Linked DNA regions of Homo sapiens: all the other regions are reported to be linked to region 2. Evidence: microRNA targets listed by miRTarBase, many of them from high-throughput screens and not tested one by one. Region 2 holds a microRNA gene; each other region holds the end of a gene's coding sequence. Distances are between the middles of the regions.

Region 1 (4,144 bases), not on the chromosome of region 2:
AGGTTGCAGTGAGCTGAGATTGTACCACTGTACTCCAGCCAGGGCGACATGTCAAAAAAACAAAACAAAACCAAAGCACTCTGCAAGCTTCCTGGCTAACTCTTGTACATTGCAGCAGGGGAAGTTTGATGCCTCTGAGGGCGATGCCAAAGCCAGGCGGGCTGCTGGGGTGTGAGCATGGAGTAAATGCAGCAAGGTCACAGATGACGGATGATGACTGCGGTGGGAAAACCCACATAGCGGCCTGCAAGCACGTCTCAGGAAGAGCTGTCTTGCTAGGGGCAAACTTACGGTAAAGGATGACGCCATCATTTGATAAAATGTTCTGTCATGCTTTTAGTGGCGAGTTTTTAACAATAAAGCAAAACACTCACCATGAACCAAATGTTAAAATCAATGTCAACCAAGTCACATCATTTCCTGTTCCACTTGGTTTTGAAATTCAACTTCTCCTTTATTTAAAAATGACATCAAAACCAGTCTTCTCTTGAAGAGGTAATTTAGGAAATGGAGCAATTTACTGTGGTTTTAGAGGATGTAAAGTGCTCCGTGCAGTTGGACATGTACAGGGCAGCAGCTGGAGGCATGAGGACGTAGAGCCGTCATTCAATGTGGTCCCCGGGCCAGCAGCAACTGCACAACATGGGAGCTCCTTAGAAAGGCAGGATCCTGGACCTCACCCTGTTTCAGAACCTACATCTTTTTTTTTTTTAATTTGCAAAAATTTATTCATATACAAATGTGCAATATCAATAAAATGACCAAACAGGTTTGTTCTTGAAACATTTTCAATTGAATGGGAATTAAATGCTTTTGAAAAGTGACAAAATGATCATACAGTGAAGTTGTCTCTTTCTTTATATAACAAGCATAAATCAAGTACTAACTCTTGATTTTACTCTGAATTAACCATGACATACTAAATGAACTTGGGCTTCAGGCAGAACCTACATCTTAAGGCGAGCTCCAGGCGATGGGTATGCACATTAAGGCTTAGGAAGCACACTGTTCTAGGTTAACAGCTCAGGTCTCTGGGCTTAGCACTACAGGGAGAACGTGACTAGGAAGTGCAGACTTGGGTTCTGATCTCAGGCTTACCACTAAATATCTGCTGTTTCCCACAGCCCTGCCCGCTTCTCAGGACTGTGGGGGACCAAATGGGATCCTTATTAACAAGGTCCTGTAAGATCTGGGTCCAGCCTGCCTCAGACCTTATCATGTAATACTTTCTATTTTGAGTTGGGCTTTCTAACCAGGCTGACCTCAAGTAGAGTTTGTTTCTGCCTCAGGGCCTTTGCACAGGCTGTTTTCTCTGCCTGGAACACCCTCCCTTTTGACCTCTGCACTGCAGCTGCCTCCTGTTAATCAGATCTCAGCCTAAATGTTGTCTCTCCAGTGAGACCCTCCAGGGACTGCACGAGTATCAAATACCTTTGTCAAGAAATAAAACCTCCCCAGGCCGTGCGCAGTGGCTCACGCCTATAATTCCAGCACTTTGGGAGGCCGAGGTGGGTGGATCACCTGGGGTCAGGAGCTCGAGACCAGCTTGGCCAACATCATGAAACCCCATCTCTACTAAAAATACAAAAAATTAGTTGGGTGTGGTGGTGTGCACCTATAATACCAGCTACTCGGGAGGCTGGGGCAGGAGAATCTCTTGAACCCAGGAGGTGGAGGCTGCAGTGAGCCGTGTTCACACCACTGCCACTCCAGCCTGGGTAACAAGAGGGAAACTCCGTCTCAAAAAAGAAAAAAAAAAAAGACCTCCCTTGCTTTCCCCTACTGATTTCTCTTGGAAATGACAGCAATGTTACCCTGATTACTCTCGCAGCCCATACCCTGCAAATGGAAATCTGCCAACTTCAACCAGGAAGAAAAGACTGGAATGCAGGTTGCTTTTTATAGCATTTCAAGGAAAGATCATTCATTCACTGCCTATACATCCTTCCTTCCGGCATCACTGTGAGACTCTGCATGCACATTAATTTCATCCATTCCTCTTGAAAAAGTGAAGGACTTAAACCAGAAAAGCGGCCACAGGTCACAATACAAGATGGTTAACGTCACTCCGTTAACAGTGCCTTGGCCAAGGACAGCCAGATGGCCCGGAGGCTGACTTGGCAAAGCTGCTGGAGAGTTGGGGAGGGCTGCGGGTTAACAGCAGGGAGCACATACTTCATTAAACTACAAGCCGGGAGCCGTCCAGAGGTGCCTTCTGCTGCAGAATGGAAATTTAATAATGGTTTATTGGTTTAGTTGTGATTTTCAATTAAGCACGACAGAAATTGGTTTTAAGTCCAATATTAGAGGTTCTAAAATGTTAGTTTACACAGTCTAATGATGTATGACGGGAGAAGGCCACAGCTGTTTTCTTTAATCTATTTACAATCTTCGCAGCAGAAAGGCTAAATGAACTCTCCTACCATTATCAGGTCAGGGCTAAATGCAGCCCCGATCACAGGCAGTGATGCCTTCTTATGAACTACTTCTGCCTGACTTTCCTTAGCTCAGAAAATACTACAAAGGGAAAAGGCGTGCTGAGAGCCTCTGCTGCTCCGCCAAGTGTGCAGAACAAACAGTACAATGGCCCCATCTACTGACACGGGCTAAAACAGCAGACAGGACATGCAGCAACACAAGCAATCCTGCCTCGAGCTCCGCTTCACGCCCGTGACCCACAGCACTGCTGAGGAATGTCTGATGCCTAGTAAACTACTTTATTATTGTCCTCAGGCACAACGTGATACGAGGGGTTTCTAGTATTTTCTCTACGGTTCCAGGTCTTCATTCTTGTTTACGCCTAGTGTGTTTTTTTTGGAAATGGAGTCTCGCTCTGTCGCCCAGGCTAGAGTGCAATGGCACGATCTTGGCTCACTGCAAGCTCCACCTCCCGGGTTCACACCATTCTCCTGCCTCAGCCTCCTGAGTAGATGGGCCCGCCACCATGCCTGGCTAATTTTTTGTATTTTTAGTAGAGATGGGTTTAGTAGAGATGGGGTTTAGTAGCCAGGATGGTCTTGATCTCCTGACCTCATGAGTTTATGCCTAGTTTGTTTTTTTTTTGTTTTTTGTTTTTTTTTTTGAGACAAAGTCTCACTGTCACCCAGGCTGGAGTGCAATGGCACGACCTCGGCTCACTGCAACCTCCTGCTCCCAGGTTCAAGCGATTCTCCTGCCCCGGCCTCCTGAGTAGCTGGGATTACAGGTGCACACCACCAACACCCGGCTAATTATTTTGTATTTTTAGTAAAGATGGGGTTTCACCATGTTGGTCGGTTGGTCTCGAACTCCTGACCTCATGATCCGCCCGCCTCGGCCTCCCAAAGTGCTGGGATTACAGGCTTGAGTCACCATGCCTGGCTGTTTATGCCTAGTTTTAAATTAGCTGGACAGCTCCAGATGCAACCAGAGGTGCAATGGTTTTGTATCGGATCAAGTGCTGTGAGCCCTTCTCCAGGTCAATCACGTAGTCCCTGAAAAAGAGGGAAACACATTTGCCTGCAGAGCTCGGCTGGCCCTCCATCGGGAGGAATGTGCCCACTGTGAAAGATGCACGCCACTCACCTCTGCTCATCTGTGTCTGGTTCTACCAGTATGTTTTCTTGTCGTTCTCTCACTCTCAGAAACACGTAAGAATCTAGATCTGGTTTGGGAACTGCCAGGAAAACAACAATGTGATTAGGAAATCCTCGGCCAACAAAGTCAACAAAGTAAAAGTTGCTGGGAAGAATGGTATGGCACACTCAGGGTTTAGATAGGAGCCCAGCCCATTCCTACTCTTCAAAGATGCAGACAGAGTGGCTGACCAGGGAGGAAACCGGACACGCATTGGGCCTTTTGTTTTCCTCAGGCAGCCTCAGCAAAATGACCAATTCAGGGTTCCACAAGTCTGGTATGGGTCTGACTTGCTCCTGGTGTTATGGGCTACACTGTGTCCCTGCACAATTCATACGCTGAAGCCCTAACCCCCAGTATTTCAGCGTGGGATTGTATTCGGAAACAGGGCTTTTAAAGAGGCAATTAAGTGAAAGCGAGGCCAAGTAGTGTGGGCCCTAATCCAATCTGACTGGTGTCTTATAAGAAGAGAATAGGCCAGGCACAGTGGCTTATGCCTGTGATCTCAGCATTTTGAGAGGCTGAGGCT
Region 2 (4,144 bases):
GTGGGACAGTGGTTCTCAACTAAGTGTGATTTTGTCCCCCAGAGGATATATGGCAACCTCTAGAGACATTTTAGTTTGGTTGAAAAGTTGTTGGGAGGGGGTGGGTGGCACATTAGGTGCTACTGGCACCTAGCGGGTAGAGTCCGGGGATGCCACCTGACATCCTACAGTGCACAGGTCAACACCCTCCCCTCTGCCAACGATGAAGAATCACTGGTCCCAAAATGTCAATAGTGCCAAGGCTGAGAAACACTGACAGTTCTAGCAGCTTGGAAAGCTAGAGCATGGTCTACTGGGACAGCGCACCACTTTAAGGAACAGTCATGGAAGAGGGTTACCTTTAAAAGTAAAGAGAAATCATCAAAGAAAACAGCAACACAAATGAGACACAATACCTACCACTCATGGGCCACTATGTAGGAATTTTAACAGTGATCTCTAAGGTAGGCTGTAATAACTGTGGCTTCCCCTATTTTAATAATGCATTGTAACAATTGTTAACAGTGATTAAGTTTCGCAAAAGCACGTGCTGAATCAGTTAAGAAAAACTTAGGATGCAAGCTGAACAAGAGACTCCAGAGAGCCTAAAAGATGATGGAACATATGCATATATAAGAATCACAAGTAACACAATGATACACAGGTCTGGCGACGATATTTCAAACGTATGCAAGCTCATGTGAGAAGCAGAAAACCAATCAAGGACACGCTTTAAGACACAAGGAGGACACGCTTTAAGACACAAGTCCTCTCCCTTAGTCTCGCCCACGCTGGGAAGCTGGTGGGGTCGTGTTTGAATAGCAAAGGTGTGCGAACAAACCAAATTAGGAAAACTGCAGAGTACCTTAGCCTTTCTAGACGCTGCAAGAGCCTTCTCTCCTCCCTGTCCAAATACTAATCCTGCCGGGAGTGAGGCCTGGAAGGAGGCCCAGGGGAAGCGGGAGAAGAGGTCTGGGCCAAGGAGAGTTCTATCTGCGAAGACTCCAGGCTCAGAGCGCTACTCACCTGTCTCCAGGGCGACGGCAGCGGCCATAACAGGCAAAGACAGCGAATCGCCACCTGCCTAACAGAGGAAAAGCCCGGAGGGGCGGGAGGAGTTCCGGAAACCACGGCTCCCTCTTGCGGTCCCGGGGCACCGAGGAATATGGGGACGGTGGCTCCGCTCATCCCCGGCCAGGCCCGCTTAGCCCGCGCTGGCTCCGGAATGGCGAGGGGGCGGTGCCGGGCTGTGGGAGCGCCTGAGGGGCAGGAGTCCAGGGAGGCAGACTTTTACCCTCAAAAGGAATGAGTCCCAGAGCCTGGCACAAGGAAGACAAGTGTGCAAAGTTGGTGGAATGAATTCGGTGGCCTAAATGTACCTTCCTCAAATGCCACGGCTGACTGGGTCTCCTCGCCCACTTCACCCTCTCTTGCAATCCAACTTGTGAGGCGTGTGTGTGTGTGTGCATGTCCGCGCTTGCCTTTAGATGGAGGTTGGCTTCCCAGCCATCCAGGCTTGCATACACGTGCATAACTCCTACCCCTACCTCGCCTGCCTGCTGTACCAGGGGTTGATTCCTTCTTCCTGCGTGTTTTCTGTCCAAATCCTTTTCTGATTTGGACAGAAAACACGCAGGTGGCACACAGTAAGCGCTTAATAAATTTTCCGGCTACCTGATCTTCTTGGAATTGAGGGCATGCTCCTGTGCGCCCCTCATTGCACAGAGCTCCCTTGTCTGGAAACTCAGCAGTCACCGGAGCCGCCGTCGGTCCTCTCGCTTTCTCTATTTTAAAAAACGTTTCAACCGCTAGCGCTGTTGGATCTCTACCTTTCAGGCTTTATCACCTGGGGTGGAGTGGGTGGTGAGAGGGAAGGGATGGGGAGTCAAGACAGGAGAACGCTCTCGATTTCCCGACCCACCTCCCGTCATATCTCATGTCATATCTACCGGGTGTTCTACCCGGTCCTGTTACTTTTTTTCTTCCGCGAAAGCCCAAATTCCCATCACTGCTCTAGCTCTCTCCCAGATCGCCAAATCCGGATGTCTGTCTCAGGGAACGTCAAAGCAACATGCCCGGATGAGGTCCTCCCCTCTCCCCACCTCCCAGCCCTCTCCTCCTGCCTCCCCCGGTGTCACCCGCGCCTCCTTCCTCTCTTCACCTCCCTCTAAACAAGAATCCGGCGCAGTCAGTTCTAGACCCTGAGCATCTCCCGCGTCCCTGCCCAATATCCGTCCCGCCCCCGATCGCCCGCGTCCTCTTGAACCTGCGGAGCCCTGCTCCCCGCACTCCACGCCCTTGCTCCGAGCTTCCGAGAAAGCGGGGCAAAGGGAGCCAGAAAGAGAGAAAATGCGCACGGAGCAGGTGGCCCCGCGACTCCATGGTGAGGGGACGGGGCACGGAAGGTGGAAAGGCGCGCTCCCTCCTCCCTTTTTTCCTCCCTATGGTGGGCAGTTGGTGACACACAGTAAACGCTCAATAAATGTTTCCGCTACTCGATCTCCTTGGAATTAAGGGGATGCTCCTGAGCGCCCCTCATTCCACACAGCTCTGGTGCCTGGAAACTGCGGTCGCCGGAGCGGTCGTCGGTCCTCCCGGTTTCTCTATTTTAAAAGCCATTTCAAACCTCCAGCGGCCTCGCCACCTCTGCTGCAGACCTTCCAAGCCCTTCTGAAGCCGGAATGATTTCTCCCTAATTCACTCCCCCTGCTTAACACATTCGAACGGCTCCCGCTTGTTCTCGGGACCAAATCCAAAGCCCCTGGCGCCACCTTCGAGAGCCTCCGGACCTGCTGACCCCCCACACCTGGGCTCTGAGCTCCAGATCCAAGATGCTGCTCGCCCTCCCTTCCCCGCCGCTCTCTTTCTGCGCGCCTTTCCCCTGCCTTCCCTTTCTGTCACTCTCCCTGGCTGAGCCCTCTCCGCCTCCAGGTCTCCGGGAAGGTTGTCCCCAGGCCGGTGGGGCCCCTGCAGGTCCTCAGCCTCGGGCGGGGTGGGGTGGAGGGGTCGCACAGCGGGAATTGCCACCAGCGCGTCCGGGCTCCACAGCGCGCTCGTCCAGGGCGCGGCAGCGCTCAGCCCAGCGCTTGGCACAGTCAGTGACCACAGGGAGGAGAAAGTGAAGGCAGGAGCGCACCTTCCCACCTGCCGTCCCCGTCCCCTCAGAACCGAGTCCTGGGGCCACCTGCTCGGCGCGGTCCCTCTCTCTCTGGCTCAGTCCCCCCACCCCGATACGTCTCCTCCTCTCAGAGGCTCCGAGGAAGGGCGTGGGCGCTGGAGGGAGCAGGGCTCAGCCGGGTGCCCCTCCCGCCAGGCCCCACCGGGGCTGAGCCTCTTCTGTCGCCCGCAGGAGACAGAACTCAAGGTGGAAGTACCGGAGTACCTGGGGCCGCTGATGTTTGTGAAACTGCGCAAACGTCACTTCCTTCAGGTTCTGCAGCTGGATCTCCGTGTAGGGCCCCGGAGCCGGGGACGAGGTCAGGTTCCCTTGTTACCGCTGGGTGGAGGTCGACGGCGTCCTGAGCCTGCCTGAAGGCACCAGTAAGCGCGGGGCTGGGGGTGTCAGGAGGCCTCTGGGGTGCGAGAGAAGCTGGGGGGATGCGCGTGTGGAGAAGAGGGCGCAGGATGGGGGTGCTGGAACCTGGAGCGCAGGGCTCTTTGGGAGTGTCGAAGGGGCTGTGGCTGCAGCTGGCACAAAGTGGCTGGAGCCTGGGGGAGGGGCGTGATGCTGAAGAGGCAGGGGTCACACAGAAGGACGGAGTGATGAGGCTCTCCTGGCAGGGGCGAGAAGAGGCGCTCACCAAAAGTCACTGGCCAAGCCCTCCTCTGGCCTTCTAGGCCGTACTGTGGGCGACGACCCTCGAGGCCTGTTCCAGAAACACCAGGAAGAGGAGCTGGAAGAGAGAAGGAAGTTGTACCGGTGAGCCCTCCTCCCCTGACCCCACGTGAGCTGCTGATGCTTCCAGCACCCACGCCTGATTTCCTTCCTGCCCTACAGGTGGGGAAACTTGAAGGATGGGTTAATTCTGAATGTGGCTGGGGCAAAACTATGTGACCTCCCTGTGGATGAGCAATTTCTGGAAGACAAGAGTGTTGACTTTAAGGTTTCGCTGGCCAAAGGGTGAGAGCAAGGGGAGGCTGGGTGAGAGGGAGGTGTCCTGGTCTA
Region 3 (4,144 bases), not on the chromosome of region 2:
ATGATTCTTGTTATAGAAGTTTTCTCATTTCATACCTTTCACCAGAAGGCATTTTGTATTATGCAGTCTCCATGGCAGTGGTCCCATAAATGCCTGTCAACTTGATTTGACCAGTCTCATCCTATAGGACTCACTGCTGGCCTGTTGAGGAAGAGTTGCAACCTATCTCACTGTGTTATTTCTCTCTTCTCTCTTCTCCCAACCCCTCTTCCTTCTTCCCACACCTGCTTCTCCCACCACCAGTGCATTCCCAGAAGCAGAACAGACAGACCTGCGTCCGGAAGAGCCTCATATGCGCCTTTGCTATGGCCTTCATCATCAGTGTCATGCTGATTGCAGCCAACCAGATACTCCGGAGCGGCATGGAGTAGCAGCCTCCCGCCAGCCACACTGTGTTGCAGCTCACCGCGCATGTGCATGCCGTGCGGGCAGACTCTTCCTCCACACAGCAGACACGGACCTATGGACTATGGATGGATGCGGACGATGGAACCGTTCAGTAAAGAACCCAAGGTTGAGTGCAACTGGGGTTGCACTTCAGCTTCATCTCCTTGGCAGGGACACTAAAGGGCTGTCTTCAGTGCTTTAATGGTTTTGTTTTCTAATGCAATAAATCGCCAGGATTTCCAAATTATTGCTTCAACCATCAGTCATAACTCTAGAGAAAAACTTCATCTTCATCTCGGAATTCCAGCAGCCATCCAGGTATAATGGTGAGAGAGCAAGAGAGAGGCATGAACACACAGTCACCTCCACTCCCCATTCTTTCAACCCAAGGGTCAACAGGAGACTCTCTGCTGAGGTCAACCCTCAGTTCCAAGAGGCTGACTTCAGGGTTGCCACAGAAGAGGGGGCTTTCCATCCCACCCTGGCTTCCTTCCTCCACCCAGTGGAGACCCCCCCAAGGCATGAGGGGAAAGCCATTAAGTGGGGTGCAGCCCTGGCGGTCTTCAGCTGCACCCCTCACCGCTTCCGTTCTTACTGCCTTTTCTAGAGGACTGCCATTGGTAGAGCTGGGGTGCTCTCAGTTTCCGTCGGCACTTGGCTTTCTGTTCCTAGAGCCCATCCCGCACCAGCATTTTGGAACCTGCAGAGAGCCTTTCTCCCAGCTTTGCCGCCTGTGCTGCCATTAGAGAAAAAAAGAAGCATAATCGTGGGCATCTCTATAACATAGACAGATATATATATTTGGCTTCTTCGTGTGTGATGTCATTCTTCCCTAATCGCTTACACCTAATATAAGCTTGTCCTCCCTCCCACACTCATCCCTGCTTCTTTGGGGCAGGGGTGAGGCAGGTTGAGGGGGGAGGGGACTGGGACTGGCGGTGAGGTTTTGATACCCACACCCAGCCATCTGGAGTCATGGAGACCCACCACGTCTCTATGCCGGATGACCTTTGTAAGTTAAGGTCCTTGTGCATCTTACCTTTCCCTTACCTTGGAGTTTGCTTTGTTAGTCTTCCCCAGCTAAAAAGAGAAATGCAATCCAAAATGGAAAGATGGAGAGATCAAACGACTGTATTTTCACATAAGATCTTCTGGCCTTCAGATTCTGCAACTGACTCATTTTCAGGAGGTTGGGGGAAAAGATGTTTATGAGTTTAGCCAACAGAACAGGTAATTTACTCCTGCCTGCAGAATACTTTTCGTTGGGGAAGAGAACTGAATCCAAGGATCTGTTTTCAACACCATTCCAAGTCTGTAATTTCCTGACTTTTCCTAGATGTCAGCCACTACTATGAATTCAAGCTTGTGTAGTCAGATTAGCCAGTAATCTCTAGATGTAATAGTTCCCTTTGTACTTTTCCAAGCTCAGGTCTTTATTTTGTAATGGAATTACCTTGCTCCTACTTCTTTTGATTACATCCTAAAACTACATGCTTCCCCCCTTCCAGTAGCGAGCCACCAGAAGCTTTCTTGTCTCTATGCAGTGGGTAGGATTTTTTGGTGCGTTGTGTGTTCCTGATCTCCCTCCCTGTCTTCCTGCTCAGCTTTCTCCCTACTGCCTTTTCAGACTTGGAGCACCCAAGGTCTCCAATGAAAGTTTTCTCATTCACCTCTGCAAGTGCTACTGGCAACAGCCTGAGGGCAGCTGTAGAAACTTTCCCTCTGTGGGAGACTATGAATATTCCTGATGAGCACAAGTAAAACTAAGGCTTCAGCCATAATATGGAGGAGGGAGCAGATGTAAGCTCCCAAGAGCCTGGGGGATCACAGGTCCCTCTGCAAAACTTCCTGGAGTTCAGCCCAGCAAGGCCAGACCAAGGAGGCAGCAACCTGCCTTTCCCCCTTACCTGCCCTGCTGCCTGCACACTGCATGCCTGCCCCTTCTGCTGCTCCTGTTGGCTGACTCACCACTGTCCCCTTAGGATTGGAATTCTCAACTAGAACCGGTCCAAATGCAGAATATTAATACATCGAACAACTTCATCCTTAATCTCTGCCCTGGGCAGTTTGCCCTCTCCCATCTGGACTTAGATGGGAGGGCATAGCAGATCTTGAAGGGATATACTTTCCTGTTTTTCCCTGACCCCCGAACCACCCAACCACATCCATAGGGGTGCAGGACCCTAAGTAGACTGGGTAGAAACCCCAGGGATGATTCTTCAAAGCCCCCTCCTCCATGAGAGGGGACTGAAATGCTGCAGCTGAGGCTGGTCTTCAGGGCAGAAAATGAGTACTTCTTTGAAGGTGGCTTTTCTGCGAGTTCTTCTGCCTCCTGCTGGAGAACAGAGACCCTTCAAGAGGTGAGGGTTAGATTTCATTGGCAGAGAGATTAGCCACTGTGCAGGAGTAGGGAGGAAAAGGAGTTCTGGAGAGGCGCCGCCATCCTGTTTTCTGGAAAGGCTGCAGGATTCCTTTCCTAACGGTGACCTTCTTCTTGCTCCCAGTGACCTGGAAGCAAGCCCACCCTCCCCAGGGGAAAATCTAGGAGAATGCATTCCTCTGCAGACTGCTAGAGAGAGATGGCAAGAAGGAAGACACAGAATTCTTTCTGACAGCCTAGGAGTTATCTTCCCACTGTGGTAACCCCCCATGTGGCACCCAGGGACTGAAGGACACAGTGCGTGGAGACGGCCCTGAGCTAGCGGCATTCCTTAGACTTCAGGAGCTCAGAGTTTGTCCCGGTGACTTGCACCCTGGCTGCTTTGCTTGGACAGTTTGTCTTGGGTATAGGGAAGCCTTCCTTGTCAGGCAGCCAACTCCCAGCCCTGTTCACACAAATTTTATGCTAGGGCCCCATGCCAGTCAGTGTCCCCATCATGGTGGCTATGAAGCTCACGGCTGAAGATTCCAGAAGGTCCTGGTCTCCCATGCCCAAGGGATGCCATGTAGCCCCAGCTGGAAGTGACTTCCGCAGGAATTGAGAGGGAATAGCTCACCCCTCATTCTGTCCTCCGGACTTAGGAACCAGTGACCTTGGCTGCCCAACTGTGTGGAGGCTGAGTGATTGACAAACACAGGTTGGCTCATTCTTGCTGCAAGAGCAGGTACCCCCCGCCGCCCCCCTGGAAAGCACAAGTGATGAGCAAGAAGGCATTTTCCTTGGGAGAGAAGGGGAAATGGACCCTGACCCCCTTGATCCCCAAAGAAGCTGCGCCCCACCTTTCCAGATACCCACAAAGCCCCCAGACAGAATCTAGCATCGGGACTATTAGCAATGGCTTCCAGAATGTGCTTGGGTCCCACGTGACTGATCTGACAAAAAAAAAAGAGGGATATTACCATGGCAACCCTTGCATTCCACCCTGAGTTTGCCAAGGCACACAAAAATAGGGAACATTTTCTTAAAGAACACTCCAATTCAGCCTGAGTGCAACCTGACTCTCTGCATCTGTATCCTGCTGGGAGAGGCAATTACCCTTAAAGAATCTGGGTGGTATCTCTGCCTTTTTGTCTGGCATTTGAACTTGTCCTTCTATTTACTCAGGAGAGCAGGAGCTACCTGTAAGCCCTGGTATCTCCCCATCCCTACTCCCAGCCCCTTCTCCCAGGGTCCAGAGCCAGGACCCCTTAATCTAGGTAAATTGACAGAAATATCATCTTGGAAGGCAAACAAGATATTAAGCCTCCAATCTTTAAAAGTATCGGTTTGCCTGTTGAGCACACTCCTGCAAGCCAAACACGTGAACTTTGGTGAACT
Region 4 (4,144 bases), 6.1 Mb from region 2:
AGTTTTCAGCCAGACCAGAATCTGTTTCTAAAAGAGCTGATTGACTTTAAAATAAATAACATTTGGAAAGGACTATTTTGAATGCTTGGGATAGGTTTTATTGATGCTTTTTTTTCAGGTTGGACATAAATGTTTTTGAATGGCAAAAGGCTGACAGTTCTCAGACCCTCTATTATTCAGGTGAAGATTGTCTTGGTTTCCTCAATTACTGGTACAATTATTGTAGTGCTAAGAATGACTTCTCCTTAAAAAAATTCTGATTTACTTCTCATAATGTGACAGCTGAACTGAGAAGTTCATAGATCAGAAAGTTTGGCCCTTTTTTCCTTCCCTCCTTTCTTTCCTCTCTTCTTTCCTTCCTTCCCTTCTCCCTCCTTTTCTCTTTACCCCCCTACCCATCTCCTATCTTCCTTCCTCGCTCCCTCCCTCTTCTTCCTCCCTCCCTCCCTCTCTTCCTCCCTCTTTCTCCCTTAGAATAGAATATGTGTTGTCTCAATAACGTTGATAGAAGCAGGGTCACTACTAATAAGCACTGGCTTCCTGCAAGCACTTGCACGAATAAATTTTTTGACTTCTTTAGATAAGTATGAATCTACCAGACTGCAGCAGATAGCTGCAAATGTCTTCAAGTCTTCATCACCATGGGGGTTCAGAGGTCTTAAGAAAACTACACATGGTCATCTTCAGGTTCTAAGAGCATTAGGGAACTTGAATGTGACCATCTTCGTAAGTCTCTGTACATCTTTTAGTCATGCCTGATTTGTCATCACAAAAGACACAACGAAGAGTTTAAAAGAATTTAAAATAAAATTCTCAATGGGAGACAAATTCATGGATTATCTGATCTACTGGAAGCAGCCAACTTCATCAATTTTCTCCCAATTATCTCCAGTTTTCTCCCTCAAATTTCATGTCTGAGCTATGAAGAGAGAGGGTGAATGCGGTTTGTGGAGACTGTAGAAGCAGGTTGAGAGCAGTTATCCAGAGATCTGCTCTTTTAACTGTGTTGGTTTGCATTAGGATATAGGAACCATTTTATCTTTTGTCTTCCGTAAGGCATATCTATCAGTCCTGGGTCATAGCCTCAAAGATCCCCATAAAAAGGTACAATCTGGAGAAGTACAGAGGCCTCCTAACTAGGTCTAGTCTCTCAGATAGAAATACCCAAGGAAAAAATAATTAACACTCAGTCCCAGGTCTCAGAGTAGGGGCACTGTGTGAGTTTGTTTTCCAAAGGAAGTAAGGGGAAGAAAAAACATACAAACAGCAAAACGTGACACCTGAAAAGTGCACTGACCAGCAAGCTTTGTCAAGACCCCAAGAAAACACCAACAGCTGAGGAATGAACAAATGTGTGGAGTGTATTAATAAGGTTTTCTTCCCCAGTAGCTTCATCTTCAAAGGAAACACTGGCAATTTTTTCTTCTGGATTTTTTTGGTTCTGATGACTGACATAAAAGCAAAATAAAAAATTTACCATGTGGATCTTTTAAAGCACAATACAGATAAAAGGAATGTAAAATGATTTTCTTGTTCCTTTCATATTCCTCTATAAGAGACTGTGATACCATTTCCAGCTACTAATGGTGAAGCTGTTCTGTCTTTTCACATCCATATTCATTGCCAAGATGAGCTTGTTCACGATAAGCAAGTAGCTGTGAGTCATCGGGTTGGAGCCGTTAGTCATACACAGAGAGGCAACGTGTAGTCTGGTTGGTTAATCAGAAATTCATAGTGAGAAAGGCCAGGTATCATTCACAGCAGATTAAGGGTTAAAGGCTTTTGGTGTAGAACTCTGTAACGCCGCTTTTGGAGATACATGCACACACAGATATAATATACACATATGTATATATCTATTATACATACATGTATGTTTGTGTGTGTATGTGTATTCCTCCACATCCCACCCCCAGAATAAGATCTGGCAGCTTTCAGAGTAGCAATCACCAAAAACTCTCTGTGTTCACACATTTTTACAAGTTAACAATGGAATGACTTCTAAATCTTTGGTTTATCAAAAAGAGAGCTTCTAAAATCCCAACATTTTTGATTATTTTTTCTATAAGTGCACAGTGAACAACTTTTTTTTTTTTTTTACAAAAGATAAAAACAGTGCCTTAGTGATTTAAATAAAAAAACAAAACAACAGCAATAGCTCCTTTCTACAGCATGCAACAATATAAAATGGTGAACTGGAGCCACAGAGAGCCTTACAGAGACTGTTCTGAAATTTTAGCTTTTTCCAACTCCCAGCCAAAGCCACGAGAGGTAATGAGGAATGCACATTAGACCATTGTCTTTTTCCTTCCATCGTTTTCAATGCGCAATTCTGTTTTCTTTCAAAAACCCAGATCTGAAATTCTCTCTTGTAAATATCATCCATATTTGTCTTTACAATGTAATGATTTCCAATTTCCCCAGAGCAACACAAACCAATAATTTCTTGAAAACTAAACGAGAATAGAAAGAACTTCGTGACTGATGGACCAAGTCACCAGTTTCTTCCTCAAGAAATTCTTGCAACTTCCTTTTGCAGCAAACTGTGCGTGTGGAGAATGAGTTCTCCAGAAGAACCTGGATTGTTAAATTTTTCAAAAATGGCTTTCTTAGGAGTATGGCAGCTTGTTAGAACTGAGAAGTCCTCCCCTCCCAATGTGGAGGCAGAAAAAGAAAGATGGCCAAACGAGGAACAGGAAAGGATTGGTACCTTGAAGGAAAAGTGGAGTGGGAGAAAGATAAACTGATAATAACAAAACAAAAGGAGAAGTTGGACTCCCATAAGTAATAGTCCTTCTATAGGAACCCAGGGTGTTTATCCCAGGGTATGTGAAATGATGTTATTCTCTAGTCCTGTCTGAATTATCCCTGGTGGGGCTCCCTTCCTGTGCCTCGAGATATACTTCTACCAATGTGGTCATCTCTAGTCTTTGGAACTAAAGGGGGCTGTGTTGGAGAGCTTGTGGCATCTCCTTCGGGGGAAGAAGGTCTGCATTCTTCAGGGTTCTCATCTAGGACACGTACTTATCAGCACAGAGATGGTGGGAATGATTGGGCCACTAGTTAAAAAAGAAGAAAGTTCCGAGTGGAGTTCTGTGGACTCAGTTCAGGTTAATTGTTATTAGTGACCACATCGAGTCCTGGGTACAGGTTCAGAACCACTCCAGCAGGGCAGTTTTGTGGTAGAGGGAAAAGAGAGTTGATTAGCTTCCCTGGAAATCGATTGGTTTTGTTCCTCTGTCTCAAGAACTTTTGATCTGAAGCTGGGTCTGGCTTCTCTTTTGAAAGATAGTAATGGAGACATTGGGCAACAGCTTCCATTGCAGGTATGTCTTCCATAAGCTTTGAGGGGCTGGCTTCCCTGTACTCCCAAAAGACTACGTTTTCCTTCCACGTTATGTCTAGTGAATTCATGAGAAAAGCTTACAGTGTGAGCTTATGCCCCAACAATGCCTGAGAAAAATTATGGGCTAGAAAATATACTGGTCTTTGAAAAGGCAGTGAAATATCTTTTTTGGCATCCTTAATCTGAGAAAGCACATTCTTTTAATGCATTGTTGAAATCATTAACAGTTACTGACTGTTGGTAAATATTACAGTATATGTATTTCTAAAAATGACTTTTGTTCTTGTTCATTGGCACAGAAATCATTGCTTCTTTTTAATTCTCTTCTTCTTCTTCTGTTTTTGGACAGTAAAGTATGTATGGCTGTGTGCTTTCCCCCATGGAACTCCATTGGTCTTCCATAGCACTGGTGCATTGGGCATTCTACCACTGCTGCAAGTGAAGGTCCATGGAAGAATTCAAATTGAGATCAGTGACATCCAGGAAATCGATGTTGAAGATGCTGGGGCTGCTGGTGGTGAGGGCGCTAAAGCCTGGTGTGGAATTTGGCGGAGTGAGGTCCAGCCACTCCATGGTTTCCCAGGGAGATTCAGTGAAGCTTAACTGCAGCCCATTGCTGTCCACAGAAGAGGGTGAAAACTGTGTCTGCATTGGAGAGAGGGGGCCTGGCAAGATCTCATGTGCATTGAAGAGGTCTTCTGCAGCCTTCCCAGAGAATCCATCCATTATCCCATCAAAGTGAGGCTCTTCGCTCCCAATTTTTAGAAGGGTGACATCACTCATCTTTCCTAGGGGGCT
Region 5 (4,000 bases), 12 Mb from region 2:
GGCCTGCCGGCTCCTGTGTGCCTGAGCAGGGTCCTGTGCTGGGGCGGGGTTGGCCCTTCTTGCTCAGCCTCACTCTCTGCTCTCTCTCTCCCAGGGCCAGCAGTTTCATCATCACAGGGTCCCTGCCTCAGGGACTAGGGATAAAGACGGCTTCCCAGGACCCCCTAGGTACCGCTCTGCTGCTGACAGCGTCCAGAGCTCTACCAGAAACGCTGGCCCAGCCATGGCTGGCCCCCACCACTGGCAGGCCAAGGGAGGTCAGGTACCCCGCCTGCTTCCGGATCCCGGCAGCCCAAGACTGGCCCAAAATGCCCGCCCCATGACCGATGGCAGGGCCACCGAGGAGCATCCGAGTCCCTTCGGAATCCCATACTCCAAACTGTCTCAGTCGAAGCACCTAAAGGCCAGGACGGGCGGTAGCCAGTGGGCCTCATCGGATTCTAAACGGAGGGCTCAAGCCCCCCGGGACCGCAAAGACCCCTAGCAGCATGTCCCAGCCTGGAGCCACACCTTCTGAGGCCCCAGCCCAGACTCATGACGCGGAGGGCAGACAGGCCGCCTGGGCCTACCAGAGCCCACTGGGACGGCAGGAAGGTGGGATGGGCGGGAGACGTTGGCACTCACCTGGTCGGTGCACCAGTACCAGGTGGCCATGATGGTCAGGCCAAAGGTCATCCCGGTCCACGGCAGGTCCCCTGTGTGGGGGTCTCGAAACATGTGCATGGCGTCTGTACGTGGCAGGTGGCAGGTGGTGTTGGCAATGGTCCTGGAGGGAATGGCCTGGGCGTAGGCTGCCTCCAGCTGCCCGTAACCACCGATCTGGTCAAAAGCTGGAGGGGTCAGGGTGGAACAGGGACAGTTTGGTGGTTGCGGGGCCCTGACTCCCTGGGCTCCCCCCTGCCTTCATCTCACAAGAAACTTCCTGATGCATCAAACTTGAGTTTTTTCCACCTCATCTTTCCCAGTGTTTGGAAAGGTGTGAGGGTAGAGGGTTGTTTTTTTTTTTAAGGTGTATTTGAATGACTATTTTATTCGTATTTAAAATAATACTATTAAGTAAGCATTTTGCACATGGGCACCCCAGTGTCCCGCTGGCCCAGCAGGAGTCACTGTTGGCCTCTGGACACTCATCGGCCTTGGGCAAGTGGTTCTCAGCCAGGTTTCCGATTGTCGATTCAAGGAAGCAAAAGTAATTTTTCTTGACATTTGAGGACCTTCCTGAGGCTTCTAAAGTGTTCATCCTGATCACCTGAAGGGTGTGATTTTAGCAGAGCTGAGAGTGGCTGGTGGTGATGTGGCCCCACCCCCTGAGGCACAGAGAAGAGGGAGACAGGTCCAGAGAGGGATGGGGCCTCCACCAAGACCATATAGACCATCTGGCGGGCTCAAGCCGGGGCTTTTTCCTCTCCAGTCCAAAACACCTCACTGTTCCTGTCTACCTCGGGGTCAGGGCCCGGCATGGCCAAGCCCTGGCCCATCTGTGTCTGTGTCACTCCCCTCCCTTCCAGACTGGGCCTGGCTGCTGGGATCCCTCTCATGCGGTGGGTCCCAGGGACACTAGAGCCCCTGGTCTGAGAGGGAGAAGCCTGGATGTAGGAAAACCCGTTTCCACCCCAGGCCCTACTCCCTAGCCTTTTCCAAGTGGGACATGGAAGAGGCAGCCTGCTGCCTGGATGCTGGTCTCCCCAGCATCACTGTTCCCATGGAGCTCAGGTCAGGCTCTGTATTCAGACCGAGGGTTTGTGTGAGGCTCAGAGCAAATGAACAAGTGCCATTCAAGGGTTAGAAACTGCTCAGCCACAGGGTCCCAGTGTCTGAGTCTGGAAGAGTCTTTAGAGATTTGTTCACTCTCTGAGGGATCCTCCTGGCTCTGCTTACATACTTCCAGGGACGGTGAGCTCACGCTCTCTCCGGGCAGCCCTGTGAGTTTCCTATCTGTTCCAGACTAGTATCGCCAATCTCTCCCAGCTCTCTTCTTTCCTCCCTGGCCTTTGTCCTGCAGGAGGTAGCATCACCTCTTGGCATTTTGTACATGCTTTTAAACAATTGGAGGAGCTGCCCAGGCAGTTTTATGGCCTCCTGGTTGTGTGCCTTCACACCCGCCTACAGCCCCACCTCACCATCAAGCGCTGAGCCAATGCGGGTGTGGCTGGCCCTGAGTTCCTGAGTCAGCTCCTTGCCAGGGCCAGAGCTGGTAACAGCGGGGCAGCAGGGTGGGTAGCCTCTACCAGCCAGGGCAGTCCCTGAGGGGCCAGCAGGGGGGCTGACTGCCTAGTGGCTCAACCTCCTGAACCCACCCACTCCCAGCGATGCTACCCAGAACCCCAACGGCATGAATCCTGCACAGTGCCGGGCAGTGCCAGACTCCAAAGGGCTCGCTGTGGGGACAGCCCCGCCATGGCCACAGACTCTGTCCTCACCTTTGATTGTCAGGATGACAGCCCCCACCACCATGATGAGCGTCTGCAGGGCGTCCGTGTAGATTACAGCAGCCAGGCCCCCTGCCAGTGGAAGCAAGGTTGCTGGAGGGGGCCCTGGCCCCAGGGAGGAGGGACACGGGGAGGAACTTCTGGGGCTCCTGCTGGGGCCACTTCCTGGGCTGCTCCCTCGGGCCTGTAGGGGGAGGTGGCCTTCTGACCCCTTTACACGTCCCCTGGGTGGACCTCCCTGCTGCAGGCACCATACCTGCGATGGTGTACAGGGCTGTGATGCCGAGCGTGAGGATGGTGGAGAGGTAGAAGTTCCAGCCCAGGCAGATGTGCACAAACAGAGCCCCCGCGTACAGGTCCAGCTGCGGAGGGAGAGAGCCTTGTGTGGGACTGTTATTCCCAGGGCTCCAGCAAGCCACTCCCTGGGTGACCTCGGGCAAGGCCCTCTCTGGGCCTCGGTGGCCTGTGGATAAGGAGGGGAGACCCCCACTCGCCTGCCTGCCTGCATCACGGGGCCATTGTGAGGTTGGGGGAAGACCTGGCCGTGGAGCTACAAGCTTGTGCGGATGTCAGGGGACATTACTGTTGCTAATAAAGTCCAAAGTGGCCAATGCCTTTCCCAAAAGCAGTGTTGTTATTGAATCTGGCCCCTTCCCGAGGGGATAAAAGGCAGAGCCCTGTCCCCTCGGTTCCCAGGGGCACCTTGATGAGTTTGTGAGGAGTCTGTGAAGACCAGTAGGCCTCAGGAAAAGTGTGTGCTGGGCGGACCAGTAGGCCTCAGGAAAAGTGTGTGCTGGGCGGACCAGGAAACAGAGGGGCAGCCTTGCTTCCTGCCCCCACCCCCCAGTGGGTTTGGAACTGAAGCCAATAGTGGCTCAGAGGCTGGGTCTCAGGCTGAAGCTGGTCTCCACACTGACTGGACACAGCCCCTGCCCTCCCAGAACCTGTGGCTGCTCCTCCTAAAGGCAGGAGCGCTAGCCTGGAGGCCAACCTCTGCCTGGCATGGGCCTCAAAGACCAGAATCCCACCCTCCACCTGGCAGTAGGGGCCCAGTGAGAGGAAGGGCAGGACCCTGTTCTCTGGGACATGGGCTAGTAACAGGCTTCACCTTGCCCCACCCCTGAGTTCCTAAACCTACCATTCTGCTTTGACTCAGGAGATGCGAGATGACCCAACACACAGCCTCAGGGGCCAGGAGCTTCCTGAGAAGGCTGGGGCCCTGTGCTTCCTAGTGTGGGGACACATCTGCACGAGGCCCAGGAAGTGCAGGCCCCAGGCCCCTTTGAGCTCCCCCAGGCAGGGATCCCTGCCTCCTGGGGTCTGACACAGGGCCCAGGCAGGATGGGATCTGGCTCCAAAGCCTGTGCTTCCTGTACCTCTCCCTCCAGGCGCCTCTCTCAACCTGTCTTAGAGAGACCAGCCAGTTTGGAAACTAGCCAGGGGCTTTCAGGAGAACCCCGGCTCTGGTCCTTATCTTTGGCTGTGTGTGTGTGTGTATAGGAAGGGCAGGTAGTTCAGGGGAAGGTGTGGTGGGGGGTGGGGGCGGGATCTGCCTCCAGCCCAAGTAGAGA

What was found. Region 2 holds the annotated microRNA hsa-miR-4520-2-3p (UUUGGACAGAAAACACGCAGGU, at 1,596-1,617, shown strand). A microRNA usually pairs through its seed, bases 2 to 8, with sites in the 3' UTR of a target mRNA and lowers its output. Matches are read on the target gene's strand: a 7mer-m8 pairs with bases 2 to 8, a 7mer-A1 pairs with bases 2 to 7 and ends in A, and an 8mer does both.
Region 1: miRTarBase lists GINS4 as a target of hsa-miR-4520-2-3p. Seed matches in the 3' UTR shown: 7mer-m8 at 556-562.
Region 3: miRTarBase lists CALN1 as a target of hsa-miR-4520-2-3p. Seed matches in the 3' UTR shown: 7mer-A1 at 2,394-2,400.
Region 4: the mRNA of MYOCD is a reported target of hsa-miR-4520-2-3p. Seed matches in the 3' UTR shown: 8mer at 3,687-3,694 and 7mer-m8 at 120-126.
Region 5: miRTarBase lists FAM83G as a target of hsa-miR-4520-2-3p. Seed matches in the 3' UTR shown: 7mer-A1 at 1,411-1,417 and 7mer-A1 at 3,026-3,032.

What each region holds. Positions count from the first base shown.
Region 1 is chr8:41,541,320-41,545,463 of GRCh38, reverse strand. It overlaps GINS4 (GINS complex subunit 4), which reads right to left. Exons shown (of 8, transcript NM_032336.3): 7 at 3,565-3,655; 8 at 434-3,473. The coding sequence ends at 3,377. All of the region lies in intron 1 of GPAT4-AS1 (GPAT4 and GINS4 antisense RNA 1), which reads left to right. Among named protein-coding and RNA genes, the nearest start is that of GINS4, 14 kb to the right of the region's middle. RefSeq lists enhancers at 24-113, 174-323, 2,288-2,517.
Region 2 is chr17:6,653,886-6,658,029 of GRCh38, forward strand. It overlaps MIR4520-2 (microRNA 4520-2), which reads left to right and starts at 1,564; the gene lies at 1,564-1,617. MIR4520-1 (microRNA 4520-1) reads right to left here and starts at 1,624; the gene lies at 1,555-1,624. It also overlaps the pseudogene ALOX15P1. RefSeq lists enhancers at 1,222-1,794, 3,072-3,708, 3,483-3,532.
Region 3 is chr7:71,784,002-71,788,145 of GRCh38, reverse strand. It overlaps CALN1 (calneuron 1), which reads left to right. Exons shown (of 7, transcript NM_031468.4): 7 at 244-4,144. The coding sequence ends at 371. Among named protein-coding and RNA genes, the nearest start is that of MIR3914-1, 480 kb to the right of the region's middle.
Region 4 is chr17:12,763,270-12,767,413 of GRCh38, reverse strand. MYOCD (myocardin) reads right to left here. Exons shown (of 14, transcript NM_001146312.3): 14 at 1-4,144. The coding sequence ends at 3,770. It overlaps ARHGAP44-AS1 (ARHGAP44 and MYOCD antisense RNA 1), which reads left to right. Exons shown (of 2, transcript NR_104607.1): 2 at 3,696-4,144. Among named protein-coding and RNA genes, the nearest start is that of ARHGAP44, 24 kb to the left of the region's middle.
Region 5 is chr17:18,967,843-18,971,842 of GRCh38, reverse strand. It overlaps FAM83G (family with sequence similarity 83 member G), which reads left to right. Exons shown (of 6, transcript NM_001039999.3): 6 at 95-3,054. The coding sequence ends at 484. It overlaps SLC5A10 (solute carrier family 5 member 10), which reads right to left. Exons shown (of 15, transcript NM_001042450.4): 6 at 2,686-2,791; 7 at 2,421-2,501; 8 at 625-830. Among named protein-coding and RNA genes, the nearest start is that of SLC5A10, 18 kb to the right of the region's middle. RefSeq lists enhancers at 138-1,079, 2,966-3,909.